Regions from separate parts of the Homo sapiens genome. Here region 2 is linked to region 1. The links come from fine-mapping of genetic effects on gene expression. Tissue or cell type: T cells. Region 1 holds a variant in brackets; the other region holds the start of a gene. All regions are shown on one strand. Distances are from middle to middle. Region 1 overlaps TOGARAM2 (TOG array regulator of axonemal microtubules 2). Region 2 holds the start of TOGARAM2 (TOG array regulator of axonemal microtubules 2).

Region 1 (15,464 bases):
AATAAAGGAAGGAGACCAGCCCCACAGATTTCTAGGAGAGAAGTGTTTGAAGCAGAGGGAGTGAGTGCAAAAGCTCTGAGGCCGGGTGTGCTTGGCTGGTTGGGGACAGTCAGGGGGTGGACACTGGCTGAACTCTCTGAGTCAGAGAAGTGACAGGACACAAGATCAGGCAGGGGGCAGGATCCACATCACCCGGGCCAAGGAAAGGACTGGGCTTCTCCTCTGAAGGACACAGGAAGCCGTTTAAGGTTTTGAGCAGAGGAGTGACATGATCTGCCTTCCACTGGTGGGGGCTGTCTCTAAGTGTTGTTTTTTATAATTTTTTATTTTGAAATAGTTTAAGACGCAAGAACAACTCGTAAGTTGTCAAAATAGAACCAAGACTTCCTGTGTTCCCTTCACCCTTCCCCAGTGATAATATCTTCCACATCCACAGAACGTTCTAACTTCCATTTCTCTAAGGCTCATGCCAGCTGCTGCACGGGAAGGGTCTGGAGCTAGCCTCACACTGGAAGCAGGAAGAGTGTTTAGGAGGCAGCTGAACATCCAATCAAGAGGTGGTGGGGCTTGGACGGCGATGGGGATGGTGGGGTGGGCAGATTCTGGACATGCTTCTCAGGTGCAGCTCACTCTCTTCGCTGATATATGAGGTGCGGGGCGAGAGAGGAAGAGAGGAGCCAAGGACGCCCGAGGTGGTTGACCTGAGCCACTGGAAGGCTGGAGTTGAGTGGGCCCCTGGGGAGAGAGGAGGTTTTCTGAGGTGAGCATTCAAGGGTTGAGTTTTAGACACAGTCAGTTGGAAGTATAATTAGGCACTTAAGCAGAGATATTGAGCAGCAGCTAAACATGTTAGTCTGGAGGTCAAGGGAAGGTCTAGGCTGGCGAGGGAGGTGTGGGAGTCCTCAGCATAGAGATGGTACTTAATGTCTGGACTGGATGAGGACCTAGCGGGTCAGTATAAATAGACGAGAGGCCAGAGGGCTGAGCGCTGGGGGAGTTCCAGCATCCAGAGGCCGGGGAGATGAGGAGGAGGCAGCCAAGAAGGGCTGGGAAGGAGCTGCCTTTCACGTAGGCAGGACCAAAAAAGAGCCACCCCTCACCCCTATCCCTGGCTGGAGAATTCAAGGATGAGACACAAGTCGTATCAAAAGCTGCGATGGGGTCAAGGTAGACAAGGACTAACCGTGGCTGCATTTGGGAAGATGAAGGTCATTGGCAACTCCAATGTGGGCAGTTTCAGTGGGGAGTGTGGACTAATGCCTGTCAGGAGTGGACAAAGGAGAGAAGAGAGACACGGCAATCATTTTCTCTTGGTTTTGTTCCGCTTTCTTAAAATGAAAGAGGTAACAGAGAGCTAACATGCTGATAGCAATGATCCTGTTTCAAGGAGAATATTGTTGATGCCAGAGAGGGAACAAGTGTTGGAACTGAAGGATTAGCTGGATTGAGCAGAACAGCAGGAGAAGGTGGTGAGCCAATGGGATGCTTGAAATTGAGACCATGGTGGGGGGACACACTTTAGAATGCCAAGGCCTACGATGTGGCCACAGGAGGGAGCGCAGAAGTGGGGTGGAGGATCAGCTCGTTTCGCTGCACTGAATCATTGTTTGTGTTTCCTGTTCTGTGGTCCTCTCTACAGTGGGAGGGTTGTGGTGCTGATTTAACAGTCACCCAGTCTCTAACAGAGAATATGCACCCAGGAGGCCTTCAAGATATGCTTCTTGACCTGGAATGTTCTGTCTCAAAGAATGAGCACAGGCTCCTCACTACAGTGACTCCCCAAGCTTCACTAAATTCGTTCCAACCAGGGAAGAGACCACCTTCCAAGGTCACCTGAGAAGTGTGAGGTATTCGCCAGTCCCTGGAGCACAGCCCGTGGCTGATCAGCCCTGAGTCAGCTGCCTCTCATTTGCTATCTTGGGTGTTAGTTCAAACCACGCAGCGCAGTTCACCTAAGGCTTCCTGCTCTCTCCCCACGTCCGGCTTCCTCGTGAGCCCTGTGCAACCTCCCCGTCCTCCTTCCTTCCTCCCTCCTACCCCTTCAGCAACCCTCTGCAGTCTTCCCTGCACCTAGTTCCCCACCCCGCTTCTGACCCCCATCCTTTCTCTTCCTTTCTTCAGCCTTCACCCCAACCCCGTCTGCAGGTTCTGGCCTTTAGTACTTGGGTGGCTGCCTCGGGCTCTCCTTGCTCTGCTCTGTGGCTGGTCCCACTCTTGAATACTTCAGACACTTGCTTGCCTTCCTGCAGCCTGCGGTCCACTCCAGCCCCACTTCCTCCTCCTCCCGCTCCCCAGGTACCTTGGTGCCGATCTCCTTCTGGTCCTCTTCTTTCAGCGGAGGGCAGGCTTCTCTGGCACAGTCAAAGGAGAAGGCTGTCAGCGTGGGAGCAGACTGAGAAAAAGGCAGGGCAGGCTTCTTGGCAGCGGCAGGCCTGTCTCTGATGGGTGAGGCCAAAGGTTTTGGCTCTGAGGGGTTGAGAACAGGGGTGGAGCTGAAGACACCCAGGTCACTGCTGAGCTCACTGACCCTGTGGCTGGCTCAATTCTACTGCTAAGCCCCACACCCTCAATTCTTCCTCAATGGAGCAAGACCTGAGTTAGGTTTACTGTACAGGGCAGCACTGGCAGGCATGAGACAGACTACCTGTGGACCAGCATCACCCTCCATTCGTTCATTCACTGCACACTTTATTCCAAGATAGGTGTGGGATTGGGGAGGCTGGGCGGGAAACAGGGCCAGATGTGTTATCCAGGAGATGTAAGACATTTCCTGAGAATATAAGTAAGTGTATCTGTCCTGGGAGGTACGTACGGCAGGAAAAGAAAAAGCAAAATGGGCCCACCAATCCTTTCATATGACCATGGGCTTGCCTGAAAGCATGACGCAGCAGGAAAGGGCAGAGTTGCCAGGACCAGAGATCTAACACTAGTCCAGTCTCATTTCACAGACGGAAAAGCTGAGAGCCAGTGTGATGGTTAATGTTAGGTGCCATCTGGATTGGATGCTTACATAGCTGGTCAAGTATTGTTTCTGGGTGTGTCTGTGAAGGAGCTGCCAGAGGAGATCGACCTTTGAGTCAGTGGACTGGGAGAGGAGGACCCATCCTCAGTGTGGGTGGGCACCATCCAATCAGCTGCTAGCTGCCATCGCAGCTAGAACTAAGCAGGTGGAAGAAGGTGGGATCACCTTGCTTGCCGGGTCTTCTGGCTGCCTGCTTTCTCCCCTGCTGGACGCTTCCTTCTACTCCTCCTGCCCTTAAACATCAGACTCCAGGTTCTTTGGCCTTTGGACTCTGAGACTTGCACCAGTGGCTTGCCAGGGGCTCTCGGACTTTTGGTCACAGACTGAAGGCTGCACTGTTGGCGTCCCTGGTTTGAGGCTTTCGAACTTGGACTGAGCCACTACCAGCCTCTCTCTTCCCCAGCTTGCAGATGGCCGCCTGTGGGACTTCACCTTGTAATCGTGTGAGCCAATTCTCCCTAATAAACTCCTTTATATACAGACATATATCCTACTAGTTCTGTCCCTCTGGAGAACCCTGACTAATACAGCCAGTAACCTTCGAATGCTCTTGGGATGGATAAAATACCCGTTCACTTCCACTTGATGGCATCAAATCCACAGTATTGCTTTGTCATTCATATCTTCCCCATCAGCGGATTTTAAAGGTACATTTCTCATTATGAAGGCAGGGCTCAAACAGGTTCATTCATTTTCTGCCACCCACAGGGTTTGGAGCTCACTGTCCTTGGGTGAACCTGCAAGTCAGGGGTCTGCTGAGATGGGGCCACCAGCTGAGGCTGCCTGAGGCTGGAAAAGGCATCTTACCTCTGGGGCCCGTGCAGAGCTCCCAGGTCACCCAGGTCCTCTGCCCAGGCCATGTCTTCTGCAAAGGATTCCTCTGCTTGGTGCAGGGAGAAGGATCAAGGGCCAAGGGGGAAGAGGGGCTTTGAAGCCTCATCTGCCCAGAGGTAAGAGGCAGAGCAGAGGGCACATGTGGTAGGCACCACCTGGCCAGGGCAAGGACTGCAGGAATGCCACAGATGTGAGGAAGCCCCCAGCTTCAGACAAGACCCTGTGAGCCCCTACCATGTGCTAGGCATGTTGCACACAGAGGGCAGTGTCAGCCCAGTTGCCAGCTGGAGGGCAGAGAGCCCTTTAAGGACTTAACTATTTTTTATGTCACTTCTTCACCTCCACCCCAAAGGGATGCCCTGGAAAGCCCTGTCTGAGCAGCCTGCCCCTGCCACAGGTCCCTGGTGACCTGGTTCTCAAGCAGCAAGCTGGAGAGCCAGGGGAGGAAGTGGTTACTGACTGGGGTCTCCTGGCCCAACCCCCACACCAGCGTCCTCCGGGTTAGCTCTTAAGGTCACTCAGGGTGCCGGTGCATTTCGCCACAGACTGCCTGAGCTCACCCTGCTGCAGCCTGGCCCGGGAGCAGGGGAGAAGCAGCTGCCGCAGAGGTTTCTTGTGCCAGGTCCAGCTTTGTGTCTTGATCCCAGGGCCTCTTGGGCAACAGCCACCCCCCTTCGCCAACTGCCCCACCAGCTGAGCTGATTAGCAGAGTGACCTGCCAGGAAGCTGGTCCTGGGGAGGCCACCCCTCCTGCCGGGCAGTAGAGCGGCTGCCTCCAACTCCTCCCCACCCTGGCCTGGGTTCGGGGTGTTCTGCTCCCCAACCCTGCAGCAGAGGCTCAGCTTCCATCCACCCGTCCCACCTCCCCATAGAGTTCAATCCAGGAAGGATCCCTCCTCCCTCTTTAAAGGCCTCCTACCCTGCCCTGTCCCCTCTCCTCGCCTCAATCCTGTGCTGGCCCTATATCCTGACAGCTAAAGCTCCTGGGGCCAGCTGGCTGAGGTTTGTGGGCTCTGGTTTACCCTCTCATTCTCTAGGTGAGGAATACTCTCTCTACTTGCTTAACACACCGCAAGGGGCAGCTGCTTGATGTGTCAAGACCCCAGCTTTGGAGCCGTGGAAACTTGGCTGCAAGCCTGATGGGGCTCAGCGACCAGGGAGGACATCCTGCTCACAGAGCCTTCGTGTGCCAGCTCGTCTGTCACACACGGCCAGAATTGTCTCTCTTATCGAGGCCGTGGCAAGCTGCACAAGCTGGTGTACGTCATCACACCTGACGTACCAGAGCAGGTGTCAATAAATGTCACTTCTCTTCCACACCTCGCCCGGGCCCGCTGCCACCCTCCGGTTAGACCTCCGGTGACTTCAGCTTCCTGCTGTGAAATGAAGGGCCCAGACACAAGAGCTCTCAGATCTCCTCTGGCCCTAATTCTGTTTCCCTGACCCAGCCCAGGAATGTAGAGAGTCAAATAACAAAGGGAGGTGTGCATGGAAGATACGTACCCAGAGATGCAGGGGTCTTCTCCCGAGGCCCACTCCCCCGAGCCAATCTTAAAAGAACGGGGGAGAGAAAAGCATCATGAGGGATGGCCAGCCAGAGACACTGCTGGGGGAGCCCAGGGTGGCTCCAGGATGGGGCAATGGCCGAGATGGGGGACAGAGGGGACGGCACTGTTATCCCTGCAGAGGCTCTTGGCCCAGGATTCAAGCTGCAGGAGATACAGCTCCCTCTGCAAACACAAGGGCAGGCTGACCACCAGGCCAGGTTCAGCCCCATTTCCTGGCAGTGCAGCTCGCGCATTCCCCAGGAGGCTGACACCCACACAGAAACTGCTGACTTAAAGGAAGCCCCCACCCTCCCGCTGTGCTGCTTGGGCCTGTGGAGTTGACAGCAGCTGCAGTAAACAAGGGTAAACTGCCTCCCAGCTTAGACAGCACTGAGCTCAAGTTCTCCAAGCTGCCCCAACCCCGTGAGAGCTCAGTGACCCCTAAATAGTCCCACTCGTGATTGTAATCCCCATCCCAGGGCCTGGGGGGCGGAGCTGATCCCCTTTGCTGTGGCAGGAAGTCACCACTGTTTTGTACCAGAAGCTCAATCCCAATTACCCACAGGAGGGGGAAGACAGTGGCATCCCTGGCACTGGTTTTAATTGTAATTTCTTAAGTTGGAAGCACCATTTACTTATTCAACAGATATTTACTGAAGACCTACTATGTGTCAAGCACTATTCTAGACACTGGGAATGGAGCATCAATAAGACATGACACTCCCCGCCCTCCGGGAGCTCAGGTTCCCATGGAGACCAGCCCTGCAGCGTCCTACATG[G/T]CTTTCCCTTCTCGGTGGACATCAGGACCCACTGGGGGGCTGACAGAGTAACAAGCCACAGCAACAGGTCAGGAACACAATATCCCACACACTGGCCTCAGAGGATCACAGTCCAGGCCGGGCTGCAGGAGGGGCGGTAGGACAGCCCCCCTCAGTGCCTGCCTGGATGCAGGGGAACCCTGATCCTTGGGGACTGTGGAGGTCAGGGGAGTCCACAGGAGGAGCGGAGCTTCAACCTGGGCGTAGATCAGCCGGGATTCGCCATTGCTCCCAGGGCCAGGCCCAGCCTCTTGGGTCTGGACCCACAGGGAGGGATCGTGTGGGCTGGAGATAGTAAGCGAATGCTCCAGGGCACCCCTGACCTGGGGAGCTCGCCCACTAGGCCTTTGCCATTGTAACCCACCACTGCTTAACCACTGCCCAACGGCACTAAGAGGATTGGAGGCGGGCGGGGAGGGGAAGTGGAGCATCAAAGTCCACACAGTTGCCCTTGGCTTCTATGAGCTCATGGAGGTCCCAGGCTGCCTGAGGTGAGCACAGGATGCCAAAAACCCCAATGCTTATGCCTCGGCTTTGCCCCTGGGGCCCTGAGCTGCAGCCTCCCCCGCTCTGCGCCCCCCCAACACACACACACACACACACACACACACCTGCTCTGAGCAAGGGATTTGGCCTCAGAGGACTTGGCGCAGCTTCTCTTAAGCTGTGGACCCTGGGGAAGCCTCTTGCCCTCCCCTTCTCTAGCGACCCCACAGCAGAAAGGACTGAGGCCAAGACAGGCCATGCCGATCAGGGCCCCTGCCTTCCTGCACGTGGCAGCCCCGCCCCACCCTGTGCGAACCTCACAGAAAACCCACCACCGCTCAGGCTCCTCCGCAGGCCCCAAGGAGGTGGGTGGAGCAGGAGCAGCAAAGCCCTGTTTCCAGCAAGAGCCCCTCCCGGCTCCAACCCAAACGTCTAAGCATGTCCAAGAGTGGCCTCAGCACTGTCCCCAGCACCTGCCTCTTCTCCTATGCCCTGTCTCCAAGAAGGGTGCCAGTATCTGTCCAGTGGCTGAAGCCAGGAACCCCGGCATGGTCTCAGCTCCCCCATCTTCAGCCCACATCTACCCCGTGGCTTAGCCCTGCCATTCATCCCGCCCCGCCCCCACCTCTGCATCCTCAGCCCACAGACTCCCTGCCTCTGCCCTGCTCAGCCACCCTTTGCCTTCTCCCCGGATTCCTGCAGCAGCCCCACCTCCATCTACACGGTCCATGCCACTCTGAGGTTGCCAACATGGCCTTTCTAAGTCACAGCAGATGCCACTTTCACACCCGAAAGCCTTTGGTGGCACCTCCTTACAGGAGGATGAAGCTCCCACTTCTCAGTTGGCACACAGGCCCTTCACCCCCACCCCGCAGGCTGTCACGCAAGGATGCAGGGGCTCACTCCTCCTTCCGTCTCTCCCTCTTCCACCTCCATCTCCATCTCGCAAGTGTGCCCTCATCCTGCCCTGAGAAGTCTGCCTGGCATGATTCAGATCTCTTTCTCCTGGGTCACCAACATGACAGGCAGCCTTCGCCTACGCACCCACCTCTCTGAACTTCACCTTGATGACTTCCTGGCTGGAGCACACAGATTGTGACCTATGCACCTGGCACATAGTAGGTGCTTAACAGCTTTTAGGTGAGTAAACGGACAGATGGATGACTGAAATGGTAATAGAGCCTCCATCCCCTCCATTGGCTAGAGAGCCCCACATTGTCAACAAAGGGAAATCCATGTCACAAACCAAACAGGAAAGGACAGATATTTATTACGGAACTAATCCATGCCAGGTACCAATCCTGGCCCCACAGAAGCCACAGAGGTTTTTGACATATGGCCCCTGCCCTGTGGTGCTCCAAGTTAAAGAACAGAATGAGGTTTAAATAAAATAGGCTGGCCAGGTGCGGTGGCTTCTACCTGTAATCCCAGCACTTTGGGAGGCCGAGGTGGGCAGATCACCTGAGATCAGGAGTTCAGGACAAGCCTGGGCAACATGGTGAAAGCCCAGCTCTACTAAAAATACAAAAATTAGCCGGGCCTGGTGGTGCATGTCTGTAATCCTAGCTACTTGGGAGGCTGAGGCAGAAGAATTACTAGAACCAGGGAGGCAGAGGTTACAATAAGCAGAGATCGTGCCACTGCACTCCAGCCTGGGTAACAGAGCAAGACTCCATCTCAAAAAAATATATATATTTTTAATTGGCTGGGTGCAGTGGCTCACGCCTGTAATCCCAGCACTTTGGGAAGCCAAAGTGGGCAGATCACCTAAGGTCAGGAGTTCAAGACCAGCCTAACCAATGTGATGAAACTGCAGCTCTACTAAAATTACAAAATGTAGCCAGGCATGGTGGCATGCTCCTGTAGTCTCAGCTACTCGGGAGGCTGCGACAGAAGAATTGCTTGAACCCAGGAGGCAGAGGTTGCAGTGAGCCAAGATCGTGCCACTGCACTCCAGCCTGGGTGACAGAGTGAGACTCCATCTCAAAAAATAATAACAATAAAAAATAAAAAACAAATAAATAAAACAAAATAAATAAACAAAATAAATTTAAATAATCAAGATTTGCTTATTTTGTTTAATGGAAGGGAGGGGCTGAGGCAGTCCCTGGGCTGGATGCCTGTGGACAATGCAGAGAAGACCACTTCCCCTCCTTGCCGCCCTTTAAAGGGAGAGTAGGTAGACATGGAACAGTGGAGATGAAATGAATGGGTGGGGAAAGGGGTGAGAGGCTGTTGGGGTTGCAGAGATGGACGAGGGGAAGCACCATGTCCCCTCGTAAATGGATGGATGGATGAGTGAAATGGTAATAGGTCCTCAGGGTCTGGAGGGGTAAGAAGGCCCCACAGAACAAGCACTGGGGGACAGCGGGGAGGAACTGTGGGGTCGTGGGCTGGATGGACCCTGATTGTCAGGCCAAGGAGACTCAGCATTATGCGCCTGGGTCCTTGACACAAAGGACCCGCCATTCATTCAATCAGGAATGTCAATACAGGCAAAGGGCCTGCAAGAGGTGTGCAAGGTGGCGGGGGAAGCAGGAAAATGAAAGATGGGGATGGAGCGCACAGGGCTGCAAGGATACTGGCTAGGCACTATTAGGGGAGGTCAAGAAGGAAGCGGAAGTACAAACCAAGAGGGAAAGGCAGGGGCAAGAAAGGGGTGGAGCTTTCATGGCTGTTAAGAAAGACTTGGGGGCTATGGAAATGTGTTGGAGCAGGAGGCACTAGGAGCAAGGGTCAAAGATGACACTGAGACTTGAAGGCCAAGAAGAAGGTCTGCACCTTGACAGCAATGAGGAGGTCTTGGGAGGGGGTGGTTTGGGGAAACACGAGGTGGTCCTTGTTGCCATGATGGTGGCACAACCTCCCTGTCTCTCCCTCTGGTGCTGGATCACATCAGCCAGGAGAAACTGGAGATGCCCAACAGAAAGATGGAAACCCGGAGCCTGACCTGTGGATGGTTCCAGGGCTAGAGCAGGAGATGTGAACTCACCCACATTCCACCATCTGGAAGACTTGGGCACACATAAGGGCCCCAGGAGAAAACAGGAGATGGGGGCAAACAGTCCTGGAACAATTTTGGGAATGGCAGAACTTAGAAATGGAAGAGGGCACACAGGAAGCTGCCTGGAAGGTCGAGAAGCAGGTATAAAGTCAGGATGCAGAAAAAGAAGAAAAATTCAAGGGCCATCCATGGTTCAAATGATGCAAAAAAGTCAAGAGTAAAGAGATAAGAGGAAAGGCCACAGGTCTGGGGCCAGTGAGTCATGAGAGGCACAGATAAGGCTGCTCCGAGGGGAGGAAGAGGCCAGCGTCTGAGTGGGAAAGGGGAGGACGTGTGCAATGGTGAGGAGGCGGAGGTCAGTGGAGCAAGCTGCTGTCTGAGGAGGCTGACGGTGAAAACTGAATAGAGAACTCGAATCCAGGAGCAGGTACATGGACGGGTCTCTATAACCCACAGGGTCGGAGAAAGACATGAATATGTGTGTGCACAGAGGGAAGGCACCAGGGAGATGGAGGGAATGAGGAAGTGTGAGAAAAATGGAAGAATCCAAGTCATCAGGCCCCAAGAAACGGGAGGGAAGCAGTCACAGCAGGAACTGGATTGTGACTCTACTGAAGGAGCCAGGCCCATAGGCCCTGAGCACACGCACACACACTCCACACACATGCACTCACACATACACATGCACTCACACACAGATACACATGCACACACATGCACACACACAGATACACATGAACACACATGCACTCACACACACGCACTCACACACATACACATGCACACACATGCACTCACACATACACACATACACACACATGCACACACTCCACACACAGGCACTCACACACACACATGCACACATACATGCACACATATACACTCCACACACATGCACACACACTCCACAAATGGCTTCACACACAGTCACACACACAAACACATGCACTCACACACATGCACACACATGTGGTCACACATGCTCACACATGTACTTACGCACATGCATGCTCTCACACACATGCACACACATATGCACTCCACACACATGCACCCCACACACACACACGTGCTCTCACACATACACATACACACACACTCCACACATGCACTCACATACATATGGTCTCACACACACACGCACACATACACACCCTACACATGCACTCATACGGTCTCACACACAAATACACATATGCACACATACCCCACACACACACTCCACACACATGCACTTACACACACGCACTCACACACATACACATGCACTCACAACATGCACTGACACATATGCACACACATGCACTGACACATACACATGCACACACATGCACTCACACACATGCACTCATACACATGCACACACAGATACTCCACACATGTACTCACACACACACATACACACATATATGTGCTCACACACATGCACACATGCACTCACACATGCACGCACTCCACACATGCACTCACATGCATGCTCACACATGCATGCCCTCACACACATACACACATGCACACACACTCCACACATGCACTCACATGCATGCTCACACATGCATGCCCTCACACACATACACACATGCACACACACTCCACACACATGAACACACACCACACATGGCTTCACACACGTAGTTACACAAACACATGCACTCACACACATGCACACATGCACACACATGCAGTCACACATGCTCTCACATACATGCACTCACGCACATGCATGCTCTCACACACGCACACACACACTCCACATACATGCACCCACATACATGCACGTTCTCACACATACGCTCCACACATGCACACACACGGTCTCACACACACATGCACACATACCCCACACACACACATGCACACACACACATATGCACACACACTCCACACACATGCACTCACACACATGGTCCCACACACATATACACACATGCACACATACCCACACACATGCACACACACACTGCACACATATGCCCTTACACATGCACTCACACACAACATGCACTCACACACATACACATGCACACACACCCATACACATGCACTCACAACATGCACTCACACATACACATGCACACACATGCACTCACACACATACACATGCACACACATGCACTCACATACATGCACTCACACATACACATGCACACACATGCACTCACACACATACACACATGCACTCACACACATACACATGCACACACATGCACACACATGCACTCACACACGTACACATGCACACACATGCACTCACACATGTACACATACACTCCACACACATGCACACACAACTCCACACAGATGCACTCATACACATACATGCACACACATACTCCACACATGCACTCAGACACACTCAGACACATACTCTTGCACTCATGCACACACACACTCAGACACACACACACATGCATGCACTCACACATATACACATACTCAGACACACACACTCTTGTACTCACATACATGCATATACTCACATATACATGCACACATACACACTCATACACATACACTCACACATACCTGCAGGCACTCATACATGTGTGCACACACAAAGACACTCAGACACACTCACTCTCACACACACGTGCTCTGACATCACTCTGGACTGACCACGGGGATGTTGCTGGCCATCTAGAGCACTGTCTTACTTACAAGCCATAACCCGATTTATGCCAACACAAAGATCCTCTTCCCCACTTGTTTGTGGGATATGAAGACCCCTTTTCAAGTCCAAAAGTTTGTGGACTGTCCCCCATACACATGATACTGGTTGTATTTTTAGTATCCATCAATTAAGAAAATATTTAATTACAAAGAGCTGCCATGAACTCAATCATGCTTTAAAATAGTGTTTTATTCATAGCCGGGCACGGTGTCTCACACCTATAATCCCAGCACTTTGGGAGGCCAAGGAGGGCAGATCACCTGAGGTCAGGAGTTTCAAGACCAGCCTGGCCAACATGCTGAAACCCGTCTCTACTAAAAATACAAAAATTAGCAGGGCATGGTGGTGGGTGCCTGTAATCCCAGCTACTCAGGAGAATCGCTTGAACCCGGGAGGCGGAGGTTGCAGTGAGTTGAGATCACACCACTGCACTCCAGCCTGGGCGACAGAGTGAGACTCCATCTCAAAATTATATATATGAGATAAAATAATTAGTGTTTTATTCATTACTCCGGCAACCTCATCCACTAAGGCACTGGGAGAAGACAGAGGCTGGAGACATTGTTCGTGATGCCATTGACCCAGCCTGCCGGAGCCAAGAGGCAGAGAAGCCCCGGCAACCATGCTGGGACCTCCCTAGGTCTGTGGCTCATGGGTGGAGCCCCCAGCCCTTTCCCTGCCTGGTGTCCCAAGAACTCTGCCACAGCATGGAGGGTCAGCCACAAGGAGCCCCAGTGGATCTCAGGGGGACAGAGGGAGAGAAGTCAGCAAGGAAGGTTTGACTTGGAGCTCTTACCGCGTGCGTGGGGCCCTCAGGCCTGTGAGGACTCCCTGGCCTGGAGGTAACGGGCTGGGAAGGGAGCCAGGCACACGGGAGGGGGTCGCTGCAACCGTCCTGGCCTTTGGGATGGGTGGGATCACGATGGCGCCCAGGGACTTCTGCATCTTCTCATCATTGCAGTGCAGGTATTGCCAGGAGATCTGCGCCTGGGAGCAGAGGCGGGACAGGGGTCTGGCCTATGGCAACATCCCATGGTGAATGCTCACCTCCAGGCACCTCACACAGTGTGGGACCTGCTGTCTCTTTTCAGCCACACCACCCTGGGACCCCCAGAAGCCTGACTGCTTCCTTACCACTCCTGGTGAGGAGACTGGCAAGCCCTTTTGTGACTATTATTATTCGTTTTTCTGTTCTCATTTCAGAAAAATCCTAGAACATCAGAGCTGGAAGGACCTTCAAACACATCTGGGCCAAACCTCTATTTTCATAGATGTGCAAACTGGGGCCCAAAGAGGGGTGTGACTTGCACAAGGTCACACAGCCAGTGAGGGGCAAACAGAAACCAAGGCCCAAATCTGAGTCCTAGCCCAGCATTCTTTGCCACACTCTTGCTTAAAATGGAGAGGGCCAGAAAGCAGGAGGAATTCTGGAACATTTAGACCAGAGAAGGCCTAGGGGACCACCAGTTCTAGGACAAAGGTCATGCAGCCTCTGGCACAGCCACCCAGAGCCCCCAGGCCAGCTATGGAGGTTTGAGATGCTGGGGGAGGTGGTGAAATGAGCACCTTGAGCCTCTCCCAGTGCTGTCCCTATCCTCACTGCAGACCTCAAGACACCTCCAGGGATGCTCAGGGCATGGAGTCAGGGGTTGGTGGAGGCTAGAAAGAAAGGCAGGAGGAAGGGAGGGCAAGAAGCTGAGGACCAGACTCACAGCAGTCGAACCACCTTACCTCCTGAGCACCGGGTCTCAACTCGTGAGGACCCGGAATGCTCCCCGGTAGGTCCAGGCCCTTCTCTTTGACTCCGCTGGCCTCAGGGGTGGTAGGGATGCTCTGGATGAGAGGCATCGGCCTGGGCACCCTCAGCAGCCTCTGAGAGGTGGCTCGGGGGATGGTGCTGTGCAGGGGAACTCCTTGGGGGCCTCCCCCTGGATCCAGAGAGGCTGTACAGGGATGGGGATGGGAAATCAGTTAGTCCCAGAAGAACAGGGAGTGGAAGGTGGATTCAGACCCCAGCAACGGGGCCTTCTGCCCTGGGAAGGACTGGGATGGCGAGGAGAGAGATCAGATCTGTCCCCAACCCCACCACTGGTAGACTGAGCAAGCAGCCACTTCTGAGTGTCTGTGCCATTCCAGAAAGGGCCAATCCAAGTTACCTGTTTAGAATTCAGAGGCAGCGTGGGAAGGAAGGGAAATAAAAGCAGTGCCAGATCAGGAGGAAGCATGGCAGGTCCTGGCCGTGGGTAGAAGCTATGTGACCTCGAGCAAGGCACTGTCTCTCTGAACCCCATTACACTTCTGTGAAATGGGGTGATTCAATAACATCACTTATATAAGATGCCAGGCAAGTACCTGCCACTGTTTCCCCTTCCTTTTCGGCTGGTGATGTGGGGCGTAGCTGTTTTGACACAGCTAACATAGTCTAAGACAGACCGCCACACTTCCAGCTCCCCTCTGAATGCTTTAGGTGCCCAACAGACATCTTCAGCGCCCTGTGCCCCACCCCATCTCACCCCACAGCCATGCCTCAGGCAAAGGCACAGGGCAAGAAGCACTGGGTTGGGCCAAGAGCTCAGGGTTATCTTTGTAAATATCAGTGATGAGGAATAAAAAAAAAAAAAAGACTAGCATTTTAACTTTCATTCTGGCCTCAACAAAACCACTGCATCAAAACAGCCAAGTCAGGCCAGGCGCAGTGGCTCACGCCTGTAATCCCACACACTTTGGGAGGCCGAGAACGGGAGGATCACTGGAGGTCAGAAGTTCAAGACCAGCCTGGCCAACATGGTGAAACCCCATCTCTACTAAAAATTAGCCGGGCGTGGTGGCACATGCCTGTAGTCCCAGCTACCGGGGAGGCTGAGGCAGGAGAATCGCTTGAACCTGGGAGGTGGAGGTTGCGGTGAGCCGAGATCGCACCACTGCACTCTAGACTGGGCAACAGAGCAAGACTCGGTCTCAAAAAAAAAAAAAAGATTAGCTGGGCCTAGTGGTGGTTGTCTGTAATCCCAGCAACTCAGGAGACTGAGGCAGGAGAATCACTTGAACCCAGAGGTTGCAGTGAGCCAAAATCGCACCACTG
Region 2 (15,464 bases), 26 kb after region 1:
CAGAAAAGCAGCATCCGTGCTGGGCCTGGAAGTAGGATCAAAACGGGTAGGAAATGGGGTCTAAACGGGTAGGAAGGAGGAATGGCATTCCAGGCCGAGGAGGCGGCCTAAGGCAAGCGTGGAGGAGATGCGCCTGTGAGTCTGGGGTCTGGCAAGAGGATCCAGGCCCGGGGAGCGGGATGAGGGCCATCGGGGGAGACCCAGAATGCTCTGTGAGAGGGTCGGGGCTTGCTCTGCAGCCCCGGGAAACTCTGAAGACTGTGCAAGGAGAGGAATGGCATTATCTGACCTGCAGTTTCATGCAGACCCCTCAAGTGGGGCCTTGGAAGGACTTCCTAAGGAAGGGGAGCCTCGGAGAGAATTACAGCACTGACATGTAGAGATGTCAGCCCAGCCTCTGGACCAGGCACAGAAAATAAACAACTTAACCAGGATTTCACACTGATTATACGCAGGGTTTAGACTGGACAGAACATGCCTTCCTGTATCTCGTGCTGTCTCCCTGTGGACAAGAAACAGCTACCCATGCTTCCAATCACCATACACATACATCTCACCCCTCCACCCACCTCTGCTCCCCTCATGGGAGGCAGCCCAGGCCGTAGACCTGCAGGGAGGACTCTGGATGTTGTCAGGTGACCAACTTATGAGACTCTGACCTCCAGAGTTCGGCCTGCCACTGAAAATGTGAGATTCACTCATTCATTCAAACATGCCATAGGTACTAAGATATGAAGGGGAATAAGACTAAAATCCAGCACCTGCAAGCTGTGTGACTGAAGGCACGTTGCTAAACTTCTCTGAGCCCCAGCTCTTTTAACTGCAAAGTGGAAATACTGCTGTAATCCTGGCACTTTGGGAGGCCAAGGCTGTCTGATCGCTTGAGTTCGAGACCAGCCTGGCCAACATAGTAAAACCTCGTCTCTATAAAATACAAAAATTGGCTGGGCATGGTGGCTCACACCTGTAATCCTGGCACTTTGGGAGGCCAAGGCTGGCAGATCGCTTGAGTTCAAGACCAGCCTGGGCAACACAGTACTGGGCAACACAGTAAAACCTCATCTCTACAAAAATACAAAAATTAGCCAGGCGTGGTGGCCTGTGCCTGTAGTCTCAGTTACTTGGGGGTGCTGAGGCAGGAGGATCACTTGAGCGCAGGAGGTTGAGGCTGCAGTGAGCTGAGATTGTGCCACCGCACTCCAGTCTGGGCGACAAAGACCCTGTCTCAAAAAAGAAAAAAAAAGGAGATAATGCTTATCTCACTTCAATATTGCATTCAATAAAATATGAAAAGCGGGCCCGGTATGGCGGCTTACACCTGTAATCCCAGCACTTTGGGAGGCCAAGGTGGGCAGATCACTTGAGGTCAGGAGTTAGAGACCAGCCTGGCCAACATGGCAAAACCCCATCTCTACCAAAAAATACAAAAATTAGCTGGGTGTGGTAGCACAAGTCTTTAATCCTACCTACTCAAGAGGCTGAGGCAGGAGAATCACTTGAACATGGGAGGCAGAGGTTGCAGTGAGCTGAGATCACACCACTGCACTCCAGCCTGGGCGACAGAGCAAGACTCCAGCTCAAAAAATAAAAATACAAAAACCTGACCACAAGAGAGTGCCCAGAGCTAAGGAACATCCCAGGGAGCAGCAGCATTGAGCAGAGATGGGTAGAGAAGGGGAGACCCTAAGGGGGTCTGATCAAGGACAGCCAGGGAGGCCAGGGGAGTTGGCGCCAGGAGAGCCAGATGAGCAGAGAGTGGTTAGAGGTGTCAGCTCAGCCAATTGGATGTGACCATTATGGAATCATCGGGAGCTTAGTGAGAGCAAGGTCTGTGCCTGTGGAGGCATGCGGGTCACAGAAAATTGCTGAGGTCTGAGGCGTGAGTGGAAGGTATAGAGATGGTGAGTCCAAACAACGCTGGAGAATTTGGATGAGAAAGGCAGGAGAGAGGTTGGAGAGTAGCTGGAGGGGAATGAAGGGTGGATGAAGCTGTGTTGTTTGCTTGTTTGTTCTCTGTATTTTTTGTTTGCTTGTTTGTTCTCTGTATTTTTCAGGGTAGGAGATTCTAGAGCGTGTTCACAGGAGGAGGAGAAAGAGTCAGAAGGAAAAGGCTGAAGACACAGGGGAGGGAGGGGAGCTGATGGAGCGGGAGCCCAGTGCTAACAGCTGAGGGAGAAGGGCACAGGCTGGGCCAGATGGGAGCACCAGTCCTCGGACCCTGGAGGAAGAGCCAAGGGTCCTACAGAGGGAGAGGTCAGGAAGAGAGAAAGGGCACGTAGAACGGCCTTGATATTGGCAGTGAAGAGGGAGGTGAGTCTGCTGCACATGAGAGCTGGACTCAGGAGTGTGAAGTTCTGAACAGTCACGGAGACATATTCTGACTTTAGAAGAACCAAACCATTCCTTTCCTTTCCTCTCCCAGATGCCTCCATCTTTATTAGGAGGGCTTCTTACAGGCAGCACCTACCCTTGTGATTTCAATTGCCATCTGATTATCGGGACTTCCAAGCCTACCGTAGAGCCCAGACCTCCCTCTCTGGAGCTGCAGACAAGCTGCAAGGAGGCCTGGATGGCTCCACCTGCATGTCCATCTTTATTAGCTTGGGGCAGGGCTGGTTTCCACACTGACCCTCAACTCGGCCACTCCTAGAGCTGGCAGTCCCAAGAGCCACTTCACCCCCAACTGCGAGACTGATGTCCACACCCATCAGACCCCCTGTGGGGGCATCCAAGGCCCCCCGCCACTCAGGCCCCTGACTCCAGCTGTGACTGGCATGTGGGGGCCAGCAGAAAGGCCGTTCGCAGATGAGAAGCCCCCCACCACAACTCTTTACCAGCTCTGGGTCTACCACCACTGCTGCAGATGGCGTCTCCTCTCCCATCGTGAGATCAGGTGGGGTTAATACTCCTGTAGCCACTCTGTTCTCAGACAATATAGGGTGCAGCCAGCCAGCAATTCCACAGAATGCAGACAAAGGGACAAACAGTGCCAGGTTCATGGCAATAATGCAGTAACTGTAGTGTGACTGAATGAATGAATTCAAAACTAAAGCACATTGGCCGGGTGTGGTGGCTCACACCTGTAATCCCAGCACTTTGAGAGGCCGAGGTGGGCGGATCACGAGGTCAGGAGATCGAGACTATCCTGGCTAACATGGTGAAACCCCATGTCTACTAAAAATACAAAAAATTAGCTGGGCGTGGTGGTGGATGCCTGCGGTCCCAGCTACTCGGGAGGCTGAGGCAGGAGAATGGCGTGAACCTGGGAGGCGGAGTTTGCAGTGAACCGAGATCATGCCACTGCACTCCAGCCTAGGTGACAAAGCAAGACTCCGTCTCATAAAAAAACACTAAAGCACATCTTCCAGACAGTCTTATTGAGAAGAACCTAAGTGAAGGAATTAACATTTCTTAGTTCCATTTTGCTTTGCGCCCGGGGCAATGTACTACAGTGTGCTTCCAAATACTATGTCATTGAGCTTTGGAAATAGAGAAAGAAAGTATGTATTTTCATCTTCATTTTATAGACAAGATGATTGAGGTTCAGAGAGGTTAAGTAACTAGGTTGAGGCCACAGAGCTACTAAGTAGAAGAGTCGGGGCTGATGGTTTCTGTTCACGGAGGTGGCAGTATTTCAGGGCATTCATTCAGGAGTCAACAGGGTTAAATTCCATCACCTGCTAGCTGTGTGACTTCAGGCACATGATTAAAGTTCTCTGAGTCTCCATTTAACTGCGAAATGGAAATAATAATATCTATCTCCAAGGTTATTGAGAATATTCCACAAAATATGAGAAACATTTAATAGGCTGATTGGGCCCAAGGGCTCGATCCACAGTGGCTATTAATAGTATTGGTTGTTTAGTAACTGTTTTGCTGTGTTCAGATGTTCAGGAAGAGGGGAAATGTCCCTTTTGAAAGCCTTTGGGCCAAGAAGCTACAGAGGCCTGGCTGAGGCTGGACAGCAACACGGAGGTGCCACCTTGTGCAGCAGGAGGTCCTTCCATTTCCTGAGCTGTCCAGGGTGAGCAGGAAGCAGTGGGCAGGCTGGGGCGGGACACTTACAACAGGGGTCAAGTAGCACGTTGCTGGGAAGAACCTTTCTTAACAGAACAGTCTGTTCAGGAGGCAGTTCACACCTGAATCTAATGACCTCCCAGGACAGGGCAGAGGAAGTGGTCAGAAACCCAAAGCAGCACTTCCCAACTGTTTTATGCCCAACGCAGCCGAGGAATGTGGCCATCCATTTGTAATAGCAGCTCAGTGTGGGTATCTCGGGTTGGGGGTGGATGGGCCGCAGCATTTAAAACATCCCCCCTCCACAACCCCAGGAAATTCTGATGTGAGAATTAACAGTCTAAAAGACATAGGAAAGCCTAGGGGGAGAGAAAGTTTTATTTAGGCTGTTTTTGAAAAACAATGAGATAAGTGACAAGCAGGGCTGCCATGTTTGATTGTCTAGGTTGGGCACTGCACGAGGGCATCCTAATTAAGGAGACATCTCTCACACTACATCTTTTTTTTTTTTTTTTTTGAGACACAGTTTCACTCTGTCGGCCAGGCTGGAGGTCAGTGTCATGATCTCAGCTCACTGCAACCTCCACCTCCCAGGTTCAAGCAACTCTCCTGCCTCAGCCTTGCAAGTAGCTGGGATTACAGGCATGTGCCACCATGCCCAGCTAGTTATTTTTTTGTGTGTATTATTAGTAGTGACGGGGTTTTGCCATGTTGGCCAGGCTGGTCTCGAACTCCTGACCTCAAGTGATCCACCCACCTCAGCCTCCCAAAATGCTGGGATTACAGGCATAAGCCTCACACTACATCTTCTCCAAAGTCCTGGCAATGTTGTTTTAGACGATGACTGTACATATTTGTACATTCATTTCAGTCTTTTTCTGATGAATAGAAGAAAAGTGTCTTGAGAAAGAGACATCTTTTTCTAATTCACAAAGGAACCATATGAGTGGGCTGTGGTCCTAGTAACAAAGCGTATGTAACTTATACACAAATTTACAAAATTCAAAATCTTCTGAACCTGCCCCCACCTTTGTGTATCGTGTTGGTGCAAATATAAATTAGAGATTAATCAGAACTTGGTCTAGTAATTTAACAGAATTTCCCATGCCTTTCTTCTGTTACTAAATTTCAAGCTGGAAGGGGCCTTGGAGGTCAGCTAGTTTCCTCCCTTGTAAATGAGGGGTTAATGAGCCGAGATCACACCATTGCACTCCAGCCTGGGCAACAAGAGCAAAACTCCGACTTAAAACAAAAACAAAAACAAAACAAAAAAATGAAAAGCAAAACAAAAAAAAAACCCCAGCAATTTAGTTCTGGAGGCTGGGAAGTCCAAGATCAAGGTGCCAGCTGATTCCACTCCTGGTGAGGACTCACTTCCTGGATTGCAGGTAGCTGTCTTCCCTTTGTCCTCACATGGCAGAGAGAGAGACAGAGAGCAAGCTCTCTGGTCTCTTCTTCTAAGGGCACTAACCCATCATGAGACAACCACCCTCACGACCTCATCTGAATCTAATTACCTCCCGAAGGCCCCACCTCCTAATACCAACACATGGGGGGTTAGGCTTTAACATTTGCATTTGTGGGACGCATGCATTCAGTCTATAACACCTACATAAGGCCATCAGGAGCCAATACCTATCCCAGGGCCCATACCCCTATAGGCATCACACTGGCTGCCAGCTGGCAAGGCCTTCAGCAGGACTGGGAGGAAAGCTTCCTTTTCCAGCTTCCCATCAAGGCCTCCCCAAAATGGTCACCTTGCCACTACAGTGCCTGGTCAGAGCCTGTGTAGTGTGCTCCCAAGGATTAAGGTTTTGGGAGGGGTAGGATACCACCGCATCAATCCTGCCTGAAATCACACAGCCATTGGCTGGGGCTTGGAAGTCTTCTGCTGGCCCTGAGATTTCCACCATCAAGGTAAGAGTTATCCTAGCACTTGATCATAGTCCTGGAGTCTCGAATGAAAAATGGCTTGGTCCACTGCCCCAGGAATGCCTTCTGCAGGGTTTGGCTGATCAGTTGAGGATTCCTGCCCAGTAGCAGGAGCTTGAATCTTCAAACTGTAGACTGTAAACAAGCACATGTACTCAGAGGATCAGAAGGGACTAGGAAGCAAGAAAGCATCTTGTCCAAAGTCTCAGCAAAGGTGTATTGGCATGACTCTAGCATCTGAATGTCTGTCACACCCCAGGAAAGGGCTCTTGGCAAAGGCCTCCCTGCAAGAAGCTCAGAAGACTTCAGACCCCGGCCCTGTCCCTTCCCAATGGCCCATGAGAAAGCCGACTTTCTTGAATAGGAGCCAGAGTTTTGTGTGTGCCTCTCCAGGACATACACCAGGTTTTGCCTGGGAAATATAAATGGCTTCTGTGGAGGGACATTTTTTTTTCTGTCTTTGTTTTGTTGAAGAGAAATCCAAGACCCAGGAAGGGATGTGAGTTGGGCCAAGAACCAGAGGTTTTAAAACACGAAATGGGAAACTCAGACTTCCAGACAGTGGCTCTGGAGCCTGGGTCTGTAATTCAAACACTAAGAAGTATGTGGAATAGTGATTGGTTCTCCAAGAAGAAGAATGGAGGAGAGGGATGGAGGAGTGGGGAGGGCAGAGAGAAAAATGGGGCTCAAAAGCCTGAGCACCATGAGGGGCTGAGATCACAGAGAGCAGAGGAAGGGAGGCACCCAACAGAGGAGGAAAGAGGTGAGGAAGAATGGCTGGGGGCAGATGCTCAACCCCCTGGTAATCAAGAAAATGCAAATGAGATGCTACCACCATCCCACAAAGATGGGCAAAAATTGAGATGGGCGGCAATGCCAAGTGCTAGTGAGAGCACAGAGCAATGGGAGCACTCATGACAGCTGGCAGGTGAGATGCAAATGGGCACAAACCCTTGGGAAAGTGGTCTGGCTTTACCTGATAAAGCTAAAAATGCACAAACCTAATGTTCAGCAATTCCACTCCTAGGAACCCACCCTTGAGAAAGTCTTGCACAGGTGATCCAGGAAAGGAGCTCGAGAGTGTCCAGAGCAGTGCCATGGATAATGGCCAAAATCTGGAAAAAATCTAAATGTCCAACAGGAAAATGAAGGACTAAATCATGGTGCACTCACAACATAGAATATTACAGAGCAATGAAACAAACGACTGCCCCACTCAACACTATGGACGATGCCACAGCGTAATGTTTAGTGAAAGAAGACAGACCCAAGAGACCACACAGGGTATGCCCCTACTTCTATAAAGTTCAAAGAAAGACAAAATTACATCGAGTGTTTAGAAATGCATACATAGGCCCAGCGTGGTGGCTCACACCTGTGATCCCAGCACTTTGGGAGGCCAAGGCAGGCATATCACCTGAGCCAGGAATTCGAGACCAGGCTGAGCAACATGGAAAAAACCCATCTCTACAAAAAAAAAAAAAAAAAAAAAAAAAAAATATATATATATATATATATATTTATATATACACACACACAAAGATTAGCCGGGCATGGTGGTGTGCACCTGTACACCCAGCTACTTGGGAAGCTGAGGTGGGAGGAACACTTGAGCCTAGGAGGCAGAGGTTGCAGTGAGCTGAGATCATGCCACTGTACTCCCACCTGGGGGACAGAGTGAAACCTTGTCTCAAAAAATGAAGCGAAATTAAATTAAAATAAAAATGCAGACATAGATGGAAAACTTGATAGAAAATCAAGGAAAAATTAGTAGCATGATTAACCCTAAGGGGAAGGGAGGCAGCTGTGATAAGGACAGGGCCCACGGGGGTGGGTTCTGGGAGGCGGCCAGTTTTTCTGTTTCTTGGCCTGGGAGGTGGCTACATGGACATTCACTTTATAATTATTCCTCACACTGCATGCATTTTATGCATTCTTCTGTCTGCAATAATAAACTTCCAGCCTCTGTGCTAGTGAGCAGAGTCTGGTGCCTCTGAGGTAGCCGTGGGGTCAATGGGAGGATGCGCTGCCCTCAGAGGCAGGTCTCTCCAGAGCTCAGGTTGACATCTCCCCATCCCTTGCCCCCAACTACCTCCCCCTTTCTTCAAATCTGTTAGTCTCAGGCTCCATGGGCTGAAACTGAGCCAGTCCTGGGAGCCAGCCTGTGGCTAGAAGGCTGCAGGGCCGTCTCCTGCAGGGCATTGGTGAGAAGAGCGAGGGACTGCCCAGTTCAGGATAGAAGCGATTATGGGCCCCTCACACCACTTCCTGGGGCCAGGCACCAATGCCCTGTGGCCTGCCTCAGTGATGCTCCGACAGAGTACGGGCCCCAGTCCCTCCCCTCCCAGCGCTCCTGAGGAAATGGCAGCCCTCTGAGGTCCCCCGCCAGCACCAGCCCTTGTCCTGGAGAAGTGACTGGCAAAACCTTAGTTTCAGGAGACTGAAATGTGCTCCAGAAAGGAACATGCCAATCTCCACCTAACAACAGCATCAACAACAAACAGTAACTTCCATTCTGCGCATGGGCTAACGTGCCAGCTGCCCTCCTGACTGTCTCCATGCTCACAGACAGCACCAAGGGGGCTTTTTTTAAACCCTTCTTCACAGATGAGAAACCTGAGGCTCAGAGAGGCAAAGAGCTCAAGTCCACACAGCCAGAAAGAGGGGGGGTTAGAATTCAAACCCAGAGCAGAGCCCCTCCAAGGCCTATGCTCTCACGGGGTGCCCCAGCACCCCTAAGCACGGGTGCCATCCCCACAGCATGCCCCCACCCTTCCCGGCACCATCGCCCACAGCACCCCAGGGAGCTGTTGCCCTGTGAAGGGTTCACCCTGAGGTAGAGAGCACTGCCCACAGAGGCCATGACTCGGGGAAGGGGTCAGCCCAGGCCAGCCCCTCCTTCCTTGGCTCCCAGTGCTCAGAGAACAGTGAGTCCAACCTCCTCCCCTAGAGCTGCCACATGAAGGCCCAGAAAGGGTCAGAGACATCCCCACGGTCACACAGCCTCCAAGTCACAGCAGGATGCTTTTTCTTTCTCTGTGTGTTTGTGCTTGCTCCAGTTCAGGTCTTTATCCCTCCCTCCAGGGACTTCAGGGGTCCTGACCCAGCCTCCCATTCACCACCTACAATAGATGGCTTGGTGGACCTATCGTCTCTCACCTCTCTGTCCAGAGGCCAAACCCCTGTCACTGGAGGAATCCAGGGTCCTTGGTCTCTATAGAGACGTTGATGCTCATGGGCCCAGGGAGGCAAGGACGGGGCAGCCCCAGGCCTGGCCCACCCTGGCCCCCACCAGCCACACAGTCCTGGGCCGCAGCCTCCTGTCTGAGCAGGGGCTGGGTGGCCACGAGCTCCACTGCTGGCGTGCTCCAGCTCTCAGCAAAGCTCTCCTTGAATAAACAAGGCTGCATAGCAACCACTCGCTGAAGGAGCCCATAGCTCCCTGCGCGGGGGAGAGACCGAGCCGAGAGATTTTCCCCTTGGTCTCATTGCCTCTGTGGCTCACCGGAGCACAGGCACTACCAAGTGGCCGACCTGTCCTCTAGGGTCATGGACACCACAGAAAGAGAGAGCACTGGGCCCCCCTGCCTGGTGACTGCAGCCAGGAAGTGCATAGCTGGCTTGGTGCAGGGATGTTGTTGGTAGAACTCCTGGTTTTGCTCACATGGCCTCTGGGCTCAATCTGCTTCTGTTTACTAACTCTCCTAGAGGCAGAAAGACAGAGTGAGCATCCAGGCCTTGGCAGCAGGCAGCTGGGTTTGAATCCTGATCCTGCTACTTCCAGCTGTGTGCCCTCTGGTCAGAACTTTACCTTTCTTGACCTCAGTTTCCTCATCTATAAAATGGGTACACCAATAGTACTGACTTGATAGGGTTGCTGTAAGGATTTCAAAGGTGCATGTAACAGCTTGTAATTTTGTCTAGCACTTGGTAGGCTCTCCATCACTTCCCCAGAAATCCTTGCAGAGCAGAAAGCCTGTGGCCTTCGTCCCAACCAGATTTCTCCACCTTAACTTTTGGAAAATGTGAATCCTAGCAGCCCATGTGTACTTTCTCACTGAACCCAGGCTCTTGGGCGGAAATCCCAGGCTGGCATCCTCTCTCTGGAATGACAGCCAGTCCCACTCCTCATGCTACCCCCTTCTAGCCCTCACCATCCAGGGGGCACACAGTGGAAGCCAAGGACTCAATTTGTATGCAGGCTTGCAAACAGCCACTCGCCCAAAGATACTATGAATTTTCCCAGGCAGCTCCTCCCCATATTCTGTACAAAGGAATCAGCAGGTGTGTGGAACACACAGGGATGGCTGGTGGGAGGCCAACTACACCCCACGAGGCCTGGGCTGCTGAAATGCTTGCACACGGGGTAGCTCCTTCCTGGGACTCTCTCCTCTTCCCTGAGATGGCCAGGGAGGGCAGGCCTTGGGAGTAGCTGCTGTCATTTACCAAGATCCAGGAGGGAGCAAGGAGGGCCAGCCAATTATGACTGAGAACAAGGTCCCTCTGGGGCAGGTGCTGGCCCCAAGCCAGAGGTCACAGCTGACAAGGCGAACGGAACTCCTGAACTCCCTGTAGCAGAGGCCCAGAAAGGAGACTCTTCCTCCAAACCAGGAACAGTGGCTGTGCGGATTCCCCTTGGGAGACAGGTATGAAGATGCCCAGGTGGGGAAAGAGAGGCCTGGCAAGTTAAGCCCTTGCCCCAAGCCACACAGCTTGTGAGTGAGAGCGACTCAACCATGGGAACCCAGGGCGGGGACGTGACAAGGCAGGTTTTGGTGTCCCTCAGCTCTGGCAGGGAGATGGTGTGTGTGCAGCTCCCCCAAAGCCCATCTGCATGTCGCTGCTTGAGTCGGAGCTTCTAGAACACAGATCCGATGGCCGTGCCCTGCTGGACACCCCTCATGGCCCCTGCTGTCCTTGGTGTAAGGGCCAGACTTAGCACCATGGCTGCCAAGCCCCTCTAATCAGGCCCCACTGCATCCTCCTTCAGCTCCTGGGCTCTCCACACTCTGCCTCCACTGGATGGCCGAGCATTATGTGTTCCCAAGGTGGGCTGGCCATGCTCTGTGCCAAATGCTAGAGACACAGGAGGCAGCACAGCCTGCCCTCAGGAGCTGAGTGATGGAGAGAGGCCCCAGCAGGTAACCCCCTGCTTGTTCCTGTGTTACCTGCAATAAGGGAGGATGGATAACACAGCACAGCCCTTAAGAACCAGGGCTCTGAAGCCCCTGGATTCCAGACTGGATTCTGATCCCAGCAATGACATCTTAGGCAAGAAACAAACTCTCTGAGTCTTGGTTCTTTCATATGCCTAGCAGGAAGACTGCAGATCCTCCCTCCCTGGGGTGGCTCCAGTGACCCTCAGTGTGCCCGCCAGGCACAGAGCACGCACTCACCCTCACTGTGACCATGGACAGAGAGCGAATCCCAGGGGCAGTGAGGTGTGACATCCACATGAAATCCCCGAGGTAAGGAGCAGGCCAGTCGAGGAGCATGGGTGGAAACCGCTGAGGCAAACACAACCTGAGCCCCGGGCCTCTGGGGGAGCCAGGAGCTGCCTGGAAGGATTGGGGCACTCCAGGTGGGGAGGGCAGCCAGGCTGCCACCTGGAAGCTCTCTGGAACTCCCCTGAAGAGACCTCAGAAAGAAAGGGACACGAATCCAGCCCTCAGTCATTTGTTGTGACTTCTTTTCTCATTCTAAAAAAATATTTTCATACTTAATTTTGTTTTCTTTCTTAAAGAAGCCCCCAAATTGTTTAAGCCTCGAGTCTCACAAAGCCTGTATCGACCCCTGGTGGAAGGGCGGCCAGACCCTCGGAAGAGGGTCAACAGCTATGAAGGAAACCAGATGTCACCTGTCTCCTCCAGTGCCCAGTGTTCCCAGTCATTGCCCCGACTCTCCTGGGTGTGCTCACACTGGCCTGCTCCCACCCCCAGAACCGATGAACAAATACTTGATGTGAATGAATTAAACTGACTCACAATACAGAATCACAAGCTGGGAAGAGGGCTCTTGAAAGTACCAAATAAGTAGCCCCCTCCACATCCACAGGGGATAGCCCCCATCTACCCCAGAAATCTACTCAAGATTTCAGAAACCAACATTCTATAACTTTCCATGCTGATGGATTTGGTCAGTGGAAGACTACTAAATTCTGATCCTGTTCCCTCAGTAAAAATGTCACCAAGAGTCCTCTTGGCCCTTGTTGATTTGTAAAGTGAACAAAGCTGTTTCTATGTCTAGCAACAAGAAGGACTAGATACCCTGAACACACTTCCCATTGCAAATGACCTGAGCATCCTATATCCAAATAGTCTCCTGAACACGTAGCTGGGCTATTAGCAGGGACTTCACTGAGGGGTCTTCTCCCCTTGCTCTGGGATGTAGCTGTCATGCTCCTCTCCTCTCCTGGCCTTTGTTCATGCTGTTCCCTCCACCCCAAAAGCCTTTCCCATATCCCTTCCTACCCCTTACTTATACCCATCTCCGGCCGGGCACGGTGGCTCACGCCTGTCATCCCAGCACTTTAGGAGGCCAAAGCAGGCAGATCACCTGAGGCCAGGGGTTCGAGACCAGCCTGGGCAACATGGTAAAACCCCGTCTCTACCAAAAATACAAAAATTAGCTGGGCATGGTGGCGCATGCCTGTAATCTCAGCTACTCAGGAGGCTGAGACAGGAGAATTGCTTGAGCCCAGGAGGCAGAAGTTGCAATGAGTCGAGATTGTGCCACTGCACTCCAGCCTGGATGACAGAATGAGACTCCATCTCAAAACAAAAACAACCAAAAAAAAAACACTTTATACCTATCTCCCTTGGCCAATTCCCACCCACGTGCTCCCAAGGGGAGTCCTTACTGACTCTCTAGAAAAGAGGTGCCTCTCATCTGCCTTTCTAGGGCCAGCACTTCCCTATCACAGCACCACTCATCCGCTGACTGTAACTGCCCGCCCCTCTCCTGGCCCACCAGCCAGCCACACAGACCTAGACTGTGAGCTCCTTGGGGGCAGGATTCATGCCTTATATCTCTGGAACCAGCGCCAGCCAGGTTCCACATGGGTGTTGAGAGAGCGACACCAACCTGACTGCACGTGGGGAGAGGAAGTGGCTGGCGGCATAAGAAGCCCCCGCCCCTGCAACATTCACCGCTTCTTCCAGGACCAGACCTGAGATCCAAGCTGCAGACCAGAGTCTCAGCCCCATACATTGTATGGCAGGGAACAGGTAGGGGGAGTTCTGACCCCCTGGGCTGGTGTTGCCCCCTTATAAACCAGGACCATCCCAGGCCTAGCTGGAGGTCAGATCCCAGGGAGCATGGGGAGCAAGGGCCCCTGGTAGGGACCCTAGGAGGTGGTATGCTCAGGCGCCTCCCCCATCTCTGTCTCAGGTACCCATCCCTCAGGATAAGGTGCCCCCAGGCTAAAGATGGTTAGCATAGGGCATGGCCAAGGGTTCCAGGCAAGTGGACAGAGAGTTGGTTCCAGTCCTGACTTTGTCACCATTACTGTGTGCCCTCCAACAAGTCCCTGCCCTCCTTGGGCTTCCAAACTGTCATTTGTGATCAGACACTGGGTGACCTCCTGGTCCCTTAGAGCCCTGATGCCCTGTGTCCTGGGCCCTGGCCCAGGCTGAGGAGAAAGGCTGGAAGCCCCCCATCCCTTCACAGGCCACGCCCCCCCAGGTAGAAAAGCGGATAATGGAGGCAAGCTGGCACTGCCTCCAGACTGACACTGTGCTGGCTTATCTCCCAAAATACCACTGCCCCACCCCCTCCAAGGCCAGCCCCAGCCTGGAGAGCCTGAAAGGCCCTGTCAGTACCACAGGCTGGGTGGGGGTGCTCAGACACTGCCAAGGACACAGAACAGGCCCCTCCCAACCAGCACCTGCCACTGGGCTGACGTGTTCCCTGGGAAGTTCCTGGGAAACTCTAGAATAATGTATGCAACCTAAGCACAGGATCAGAGAGAGGACTAGGCCAAGCCCCTCTTATCGCAGATGATGGAGTCACACAGGAATTCAGTGGTAATGACAGGATGGGGACTAACGCCTTCTGGTTATGCTGCTTCTGGCCCCAGCTGCCCTTCAGGGCTTCTCCCAACAGAAGCCAACCCCTCATCTCACATGGGGTGTGCCTCTCCCTCCTTTCTCCCCATTCCACAAAAGGACGTGTCAGAGAAGAGCAGCTCCCTGCCCCACAGCCACAGGAAAGCTCGAGAGATGGAGGGCAGGGGGAGGGGAGGAGTTAATAGGTGAGTAAATAACTCCAGAAGCTAATGGCAAAAAAGAATTTGATGGGTTTTTGTTGTTGTTGTTGTTGTTGTTTTTGAGATGGAGTCTCACTCTGTCGCCCAGGCTGGAGTGCAGTGGTGTGATCTCAGCTCACTGCAAGCTCCGCCTTCCAGGTTCACGCCATTCTCCTGCCTCAGCCTCCTGAGTAGCTGGGACTACAGGCACCCGCCACCACGTCCGGCTAATTATTTTGTATTTTTAGTAGAGACGGGGTTTCACCATGTTAGCCAGGATGGTCTCGATCTCCTGACCTCGTGATCCATCCACCTCGGCCTCCCAAAGTGCTGGGATTACAGGCGTGAGCCGCCACACCTGGCCCAGAATTTGATATGTTTTTATAAGAACATGCAAAGAAATAGGAAAATGTGTAAAATGCTCCTAAACTTCCACTTTGTAAAAATTAAGCATATGTTTCACATACTTATAATATGTACATATTCCTGTACATATATTGTCATTTTTTTAAAAAGCCTCCACCAGCAGGGCCCAGTGGGGAGCTGAAATTCCATCCCATCATCAGCAATGAGGAAAGGCATAGGGGTGTGAGGCAATATCCTGCTTTTGCTGAGATGGTATCAGCAAGGCCCAGTGGTGAAGCGAACATCCAATCCCACCTAGATCTGTGTGCTAGACCTAAACAGGATAAATGCCCTGCAAAAAAAGAAGACAGAAGAGGACCTAGAATCTCACAACACAATACCCAAAATGTCTAGGAGACAACTGAAAACCACTCATTATACCAAGAACAGGTAAAATAACTTGAATGAGAAGAGGCAATCAATGATGCAGCGCCCAGATGACACAGATTTGAGGATTCTCTAACAAGGATTTCTAAATAGTCATCATAAAAATGCTTCAATTTGCAATTATGAACGTGCTTAAAACACATTAAAAAATAAAATGTCTCGGCCGGGCGCAGTGGCTCGCACACTGGCTCACACCTGTAATCCCAGCACTTTGGGAGGCCGAGGCGGGCAGATCACGAGGTCAGGAGATCGAGACCATCCTGGCAAACACAGTGAAACCCCGTCTCTACTAAAAACACAAAAACATAGCCGGGCGTGGTGGCGGGCACCTGTAGTCCCAACTACTCAGGAGGCTGAGGCAGGAGAATGGCATGAACCTGGGAGGTGGAGCTTGCAGTGAGCCAAGATCGCACCACTGCACTCCAGCCTGGGTGACAGAGTGAGACTCTGTCTCAAAAAATAATAACAATAAAAATTA

Evidence for each region.
Region 2: it holds the start of TOGARAM2, and the variant in region 1 is fine-mapped to the expression of TOGARAM2 in T cells (TOPMed, PIP above 0.99).

The regions. Positions count from the first base shown.
Region 1 is chr2:29,001,397-29,016,860 of GRCh38, reverse strand. TOGARAM2 (TOG array regulator of axonemal microtubules 2) reads right to left here. Exons shown (of 20, transcript NM_199280.4): 5 at 14,114-14,325; 6 at 13,179-13,369; 7 at 5,360-5,406; 8 at 2,300-2,466. Among named protein-coding and RNA genes, the nearest start is that of TOGARAM2, 28 kb to the right of the region's middle. RefSeq lists enhancers at 1,494-1,543, 5,570-5,699. The variant G/T (reference allele first, on the strand shown) is at 6,183.
Region 2 is chr2:28,975,183-28,990,646 of GRCh38, reverse strand. TOGARAM2 (TOG array regulator of axonemal microtubules 2) reads right to left here and starts at 9,349. Exons shown (of 20, transcript NM_199280.4): 1 at 9,109-9,349.